Regions from separate parts of the Homo sapiens genome. Here region 2 is linked to region 1. The links come from fine-mapping of genetic effects on plasma protein levels. Region 1 holds a variant in brackets. A gene starts in the other region. All regions are shown on their forward strands.

Region 1 (3,019 bases):
GGAATAATAAAAGTTTTCCTTCAGTCCTGAAGTAAAGTATATTGACTTCAGGTATTTATTATTATTATTACTATTTTTAAAATTCTGGGCCACGCTAACTTTGGGAGACTTCAGGTATTTATTCTAGAGATCATTTTTTGTTTGTCTCTTTTTTTTTCTTTTATTGAGTTGTGATTTATGTACTACAATTTTTTTTTTTTGAGACCGAGTCTCGCTCTGACGCCCAGGCTGGAGTGCAGTGGCGTGATCTCGGCTCACCACAACCTCCGCCTCCTGGGTTCAAGCGATTCTCCTGCTCAGCCTCCTGAGTAGCTGGGATTACAGGTGAGCTCCGGGCTAATTTTTGTATTTTTAGTAGAGATGGGGTTTCCCCATGTTGTTCAGGCTGGTCTTGAACTCCTGACCTTGTGATCCATCCGCCTTGGCCTCCCAAAGTGCTGAGATTACAGGCGTGAGCCACTGTGCCCGGCCTTTTTTTTTTTTTTTTTTTTTGAGGAGTTTTGCTCTTATTGCTCAGGCCGAAGTGCAGTGGTGCAATCTCAGCTCACTGCAACCTTCGCCTCCTGGGTTCAAGTGATTCCTGCCTCAGCCTCCCAAGTAGCTGGTATTACAGGCACCCACCACTGCGCTTGGCTAATTTTTGTTTTCCTAGTAGAGACAGGGTTTCATTATGTTGGCCAGGCTGGTCTTGAACTCCTGACCTCAGGTGATCCGCCCGCCTCGGCCTCCCACAGTGCTGGGATTACAGGCGTGAGCCACCGTGCCCGGCAAAATTCACAGTTAAATGTAGTTTATTGAGTTGACAAATGCCTCTGTAATGTAACCCACATTCCTTGAGAACATTTCCAAACTTTCAGCAAGTTCCCTTGTGCTGTTTCCCAGTTAATCCCTGCCATATCCCCAATCACTGTAGGTAAGTTTTGCTTATTCATGTAAAATGGAATTATGCTGTGTGTACCCTTCTGTATCTAGCTTCTTTCACTTAGCATAACTTCTTTTAGATTCATTCATCTTCTTGGAGTGTTGCTTTTTATTGCTGAGTATTGTTTTTATTGTATTAATATACCACAATTTGTTTATCCATTTGCCAGATATTGGACATTTGGGTTATTTCCAATTTGGGGCTATTATAAATAAAGCTGCACTGAACATTCTTGCACAAGACTTTGGGGACTTTTTTTTTTTTTTTTGAGACAGAGTTTAGCTCTTGTTGCCCAGGCTGGAGTGCAATGGTGCGATCTCGGCTCACCGCAACCTCCGACTCCCAGGTTCAAGCAATTCTCCTGCCTCAGCCTCCCTAGTAGCTGGGATTACAGGCATGCGCCACCACACCTGTTTAATTTTGTATTTTTAGTAGATAACAGGATTTCTCCATGTTGGTCAGGCTGGTCTCGAACTCCCGACCTCTGGTGATCTGCTCCCCTCAGCCTCCCAAAGTGCTGGGATTACAGGCCTGAGCCACCATGCCCAGCTTTTTTTTTTTTTTTTTTTTTTTTTTTGTGACAAGATCTCACTCTATTGCCCAGGCTGGAGTGGCTCA[AT/A]GCAGCCTTGTCTTCCCTGGCTCAAGCAGCCTTGCCATTTCAGCCTCCCAAGTAGCTGGGACTACAGGCTCACACCACCACTCCACACCACTCCAGGCTTTTGTTTTTGAGACAGAGCCTCACTCTGTTGTCCAGGCTGGAGTGCAGTGGCGCAGTCTCAGCTCACTGCAACGTCTGCCTCCCGGGTTCAAGCGATTCTCCTGCCTCAGTCTCCTGAGTAGCTGGTACTACAGGCATGCGCCACCATCCCTGGCTAATTTTTTATTTTTGGTAGAGACGGGGTTTCACCATGTTGGTCAGGCTTGTCTCGAACTCCTGACCTCCTGATCCACCTGCTTCGGCCTCCCAAAGTGCTGGGATTACGGGCGTGAGCCACCGTCCCCAGCCTTTTTTTTTTTCTGAGACGGAGTCTCGCTCTTGTTGCCCAGGCTGGAGTGCAGTGGTGCAGTCTCGGCTCACTGCAGCCTCCGCCTCTTGGGTTCAAGTGATTCTCCTGCTTCAGCCTCCAAAGTAGCTGGGATTGCAGGCATGCACCACCATACCTGGCTAATTTTGTATTTTATTTATTTATTTATTTATTTATTTATTTATTTATTTATTTTTTAGTAGAGACGGGGTTTCTCCATGTTAGTCAAGCTGGTCTCAAACTCCCGACCTCAGGTGATCTGCCCGCCTTGGCCTCCCAAAGTGTTGGGATTACAAGTGTGAGCCACCGCGCCCGGCCTTTTTTTTTTTTTTTTTTTAAATATCCTTGTTCAGTTATTTTTTAGGAACTTAGACACAGCAAATACATACCAAATGCCTCTGTGCCAGACACTGTTCACAGGGTAGTTAGCCATATATCAGATTATAAAGGATAAAAGAGGTCAGAGTAGCTGCTTCATTGGCTTTATGACCTGGTCTTTCTTTTTAATTTTCTTTCTTTCTTTTTCTTTTGTTTTTTAATTATACTTTAAGTTCTGGGATACAAGTGCAGACCTGGTCTTTCAAAGAATCCACTTGTTCACATAGAAACTCACAGTTTCCTTGTTTACTCAAGTAAAGGAAACCAGAATATCTCACCCAAAATATACCTCTTTGGTATATTTCAAGATAGTATTAGAGAAACTGCAAACAAGAATAGCTCTGAAAAGCTGCTGTTTGTGGAGATTTGCATCTTTAGGGAAAATCTGCATTAGTGAAATAAACAGCCAGGCTTTCTCTGAGCACACCTCCCCACCCCATCCCCCATGTTCAGACCTTGGAAAGATTAACCGAGAGATTGAGAGTCTGACACCTTTGAAGGTCTAATAGAGAAGTTTACCACATACCACAGGCTACCAAGTATCTTTTCTCAAGCCTTCTACCTGTGGGGTCTCATTTGCATAACAAGACCACCTTCCCTAGCCAGGCCTTTCCGTCCCTCCCTCCCATAACCTGTTTTGCCGTGATCTAAACCCCTATTCTTTCTGTAACTTCAGAAAGACATTAAAACTTAA
Region 2 (2,500 bases), not on the chromosome of region 1:
ACTTGCAAACGATCCCGGGTTGTCATACAGATACTTGTTTTTTACACATAACGCTATGCCATCCCTTCCTTCACTGCCCCAGTCAGGTTTCCTGTTGTTGGACCGAAAGGGGATACATTTTAGAAATGCTTCCTTCAAGACAGAAGTGAGAAAGAAAGGAGACCCTGAGGCCAGGATCTATTAAACCTGGTGTGTGCGCAAAAGGGAGGGGGAAGGCAGGAATTTGAAAGGATAAACGTCTCCTTTGCGCCGAGGAATCAGGAAGCGTGACTCACTTGGGTCTGGGACGATACCGAAATCCGGTACCCCACCCCATCCCCTGCCCCGCCGGGTACCTACAAGCTCGGTTCCTTTCTCAACTCCCCCAGTTCCTTGATCTCCACCTTCTTGTACTTCCCCGACTTTCTCCGGTTGGTGATCACCAGGACGGCCATGCCGGCGACGAGGGCCACCACGACCACCACGATGACGGCGATGAGGCCGGCGGTGAGGCGCTTCATGGAGAACTTCGGGGGAATCTCGTCCAGGTAATAGATGAGCGTGCGCTCCACCTGCAGGGGTTCTCCGCGCACGCGCAAGTCCAGGCCGCCGCGGCCCTGGAATAGAGACTCGCCCTTGATGTCCCTCTCGAAGTAGTAGGCGGCATCGCCGATATCCACGTCACCGGCGGCCTTCTGAGACGTGTTCTGCCGCAGCTCGATCTGGATGGTGGGCTGCTCGTAGTGCACGGCCGCCACGAACTTGGGGTGCAGCCGATAGCGCTCGCGGAAGAGCCGCCTCAGCTCGGCGTCCAGGTCTGAGTGGTTGAAGGCGCCGGCGGTGGGGCGGTGGCGCAGGTCAATGAGGATGTGGTGGGTGCGCACCAGCTCATCGCAGCGTAGGCTCAGGTCGCCCTTGTCCGTGCGGCGCACGCCCACCGAGTTCACGCACCAGCACACCGACGTCTGGTTGCACTGGCGCGCCTTGAAGCGGCCCTCGGGGTCGCAGTCGGGGTCGTAGAGGCCATCGTTGTCCACGAGCGCGTGCTCACTCGGCCGCACCAGCGTGCGGGCGTTCTTGGGGGCGCTCATGCGCGCCTTGAGCAGCAGACACTTGGAGGTCAGCGTGGAGCAGTCGACCGCCATGCCCGAGCCCAGCGCGCGGCACTGGCAGCGGCCGCCGGGGCCGTCGGGGCTGCACACGGTCATCTTGTTGGTGGGACACGTGCAGTTGTCCTGCGCGGCCGTGTGGCCGGTCACCGCCGCCAGCACCAGCAGCAGCAGCGGCAGCCGCAGCGGTGGCGGCGCGAGGCCGGGGCCCCGAGCCATGGTGGGGCGGAGGAACGCGGACCGGACGCGGGCGGATGAGGCGCGGGGACTCGTCGGGGCTCGGGCTCCGGCGTCTGGGATGGTCTGCAGGCGTCTGCCGCCCGGCCGCTCCCTCCGGCTCTTATACTCTACCCGACCTGCCCGGCTGGTTCCACCACCGACCGTCCCCACTGGTATTTGGGTGACACATCCCGCCCCCCTCCCCGTCCCACGGAAGGCCAAGCCGGCCCTGCGCCGCCCGCGATAGGATCAGAACAGGGAAGCTGCTCCCGCCTCCTCCGGACCGAAAGCCGGGAAGGGGAGAACCGATACTCACCTGTAGGCTTCTGGGGACCCGCCCTCGGCGCGGCCTCCTGCTACAGACCTGGCGCGTCTGGGCCGCTCTCCCGGCAGAAAGTCTAAAGAGTTTCATTGCAAAGTGTGGCTCGCGACTGTCGCGCTCTCCTCTATACGCGACTCCCTTTTCGTTCTTTCCCAGCCCCAGCCCTCCCTTAATTTCTCTCACTCCCTCTCTTCTTTGTCCAGTTCTCACAGTAGCACACGTTTATATAGTTTACAGTTCACAAACATTATCTCATCCTAACACCAGTCCTGACAGGTAGGGACTATCAGACCCGTTTTATAGGTGGTACTGATGAGGCTTAAAGACCTGAAGTCACACTGCTATCAACTTCCTCATATTTCTGAGAGGGGTCTTTGGCACCCTGCCTAGGAGTGATGAGACCTTAAATAAAGTGTTTGTGGACACGAAGTGACACAGAATCTGAAGGGAAGTTAGGGAAGCAGTTCTGTTACTCACCATATCAAGGGTAAAACACAGGTATCCTGGTGTCCAGAGGGTTAAAAGTTCTGTTAAACACTAATTTTCTGTACCTCACACAAGCGCACACACACAGGCACACACGCACATAATATTTATTTGTGCACTGGCTATAAAGAGACAAACAGGAACAAATTCTTAAAGAGCCAGCAAGACTGTAAAGAGTTTTTTGTACAATTTGATTCTAACACAGCAAATCGTTGCTTTTCTTTTCCTGTATCCCACGTAAGTAGCTGAACCATGTAAATAATGAAAGAATGGAGCCTGTGAGAAATTGCTTGTCTGCCACTGTGTGGCTAGTTTCATGGCATACAGGGGTTGCAATCTCTTTTTGAGTCATTGAGAAAGTCTAGAGTTTCAAAGCTGTGGTAAA

Alleles and levels. Positions count from the first base shown, and alleles are read on the strand shown. Strength reflects both the effect of a copy and how common the allele is.
For the plasma level of the protein whose gene starts at base 1,403 in region 2, allele A in region 1 goes with a higher level than allele AT (weak association).

The links. PIP is the chance, under the fine-mapping model, that this variant and not a neighbour inherited with it causes the effect. The UK Biobank Pharma Proteomics Project read protein levels with antibody pairs (Olink). The fine-mapping took linkage between variants from a reference panel, not from the people measured, so its PIPs are less certain.
Region 2: it holds the start of TACSTD2, and the variant in region 1 is fine-mapped to the plasma level of the TACSTD2 protein (UK Biobank, PIP 0.98).

Annotation. Positions count from the first base shown.
Region 1 is chr8:97,780,808-97,783,826 of GRCh38, forward strand. All of the region lies in intron 1 of LAPTM4B (lysosomal protein transmembrane 4 beta), which reads left to right. Among named protein-coding and RNA genes, the nearest start is that of LAPTM4B, 6.5 kb to the left of the region's middle. RefSeq lists an enhancer at 1,705-2,213. The variant AT/A (reference allele first, on the strand shown) is at 1,541.
Region 2 is chr1:58,575,850-58,578,349 of GRCh38, forward strand. It overlaps TACSTD2 (tumor associated calcium signal transducer 2), which reads right to left and starts at 1,403. Exons shown (of 1, transcript NM_002353.3): 1 at 1-1,403. The coding sequence starts at 1,307. The coding sequence ends at 336. RefSeq lists enhancers at 171-866, 867-1,561.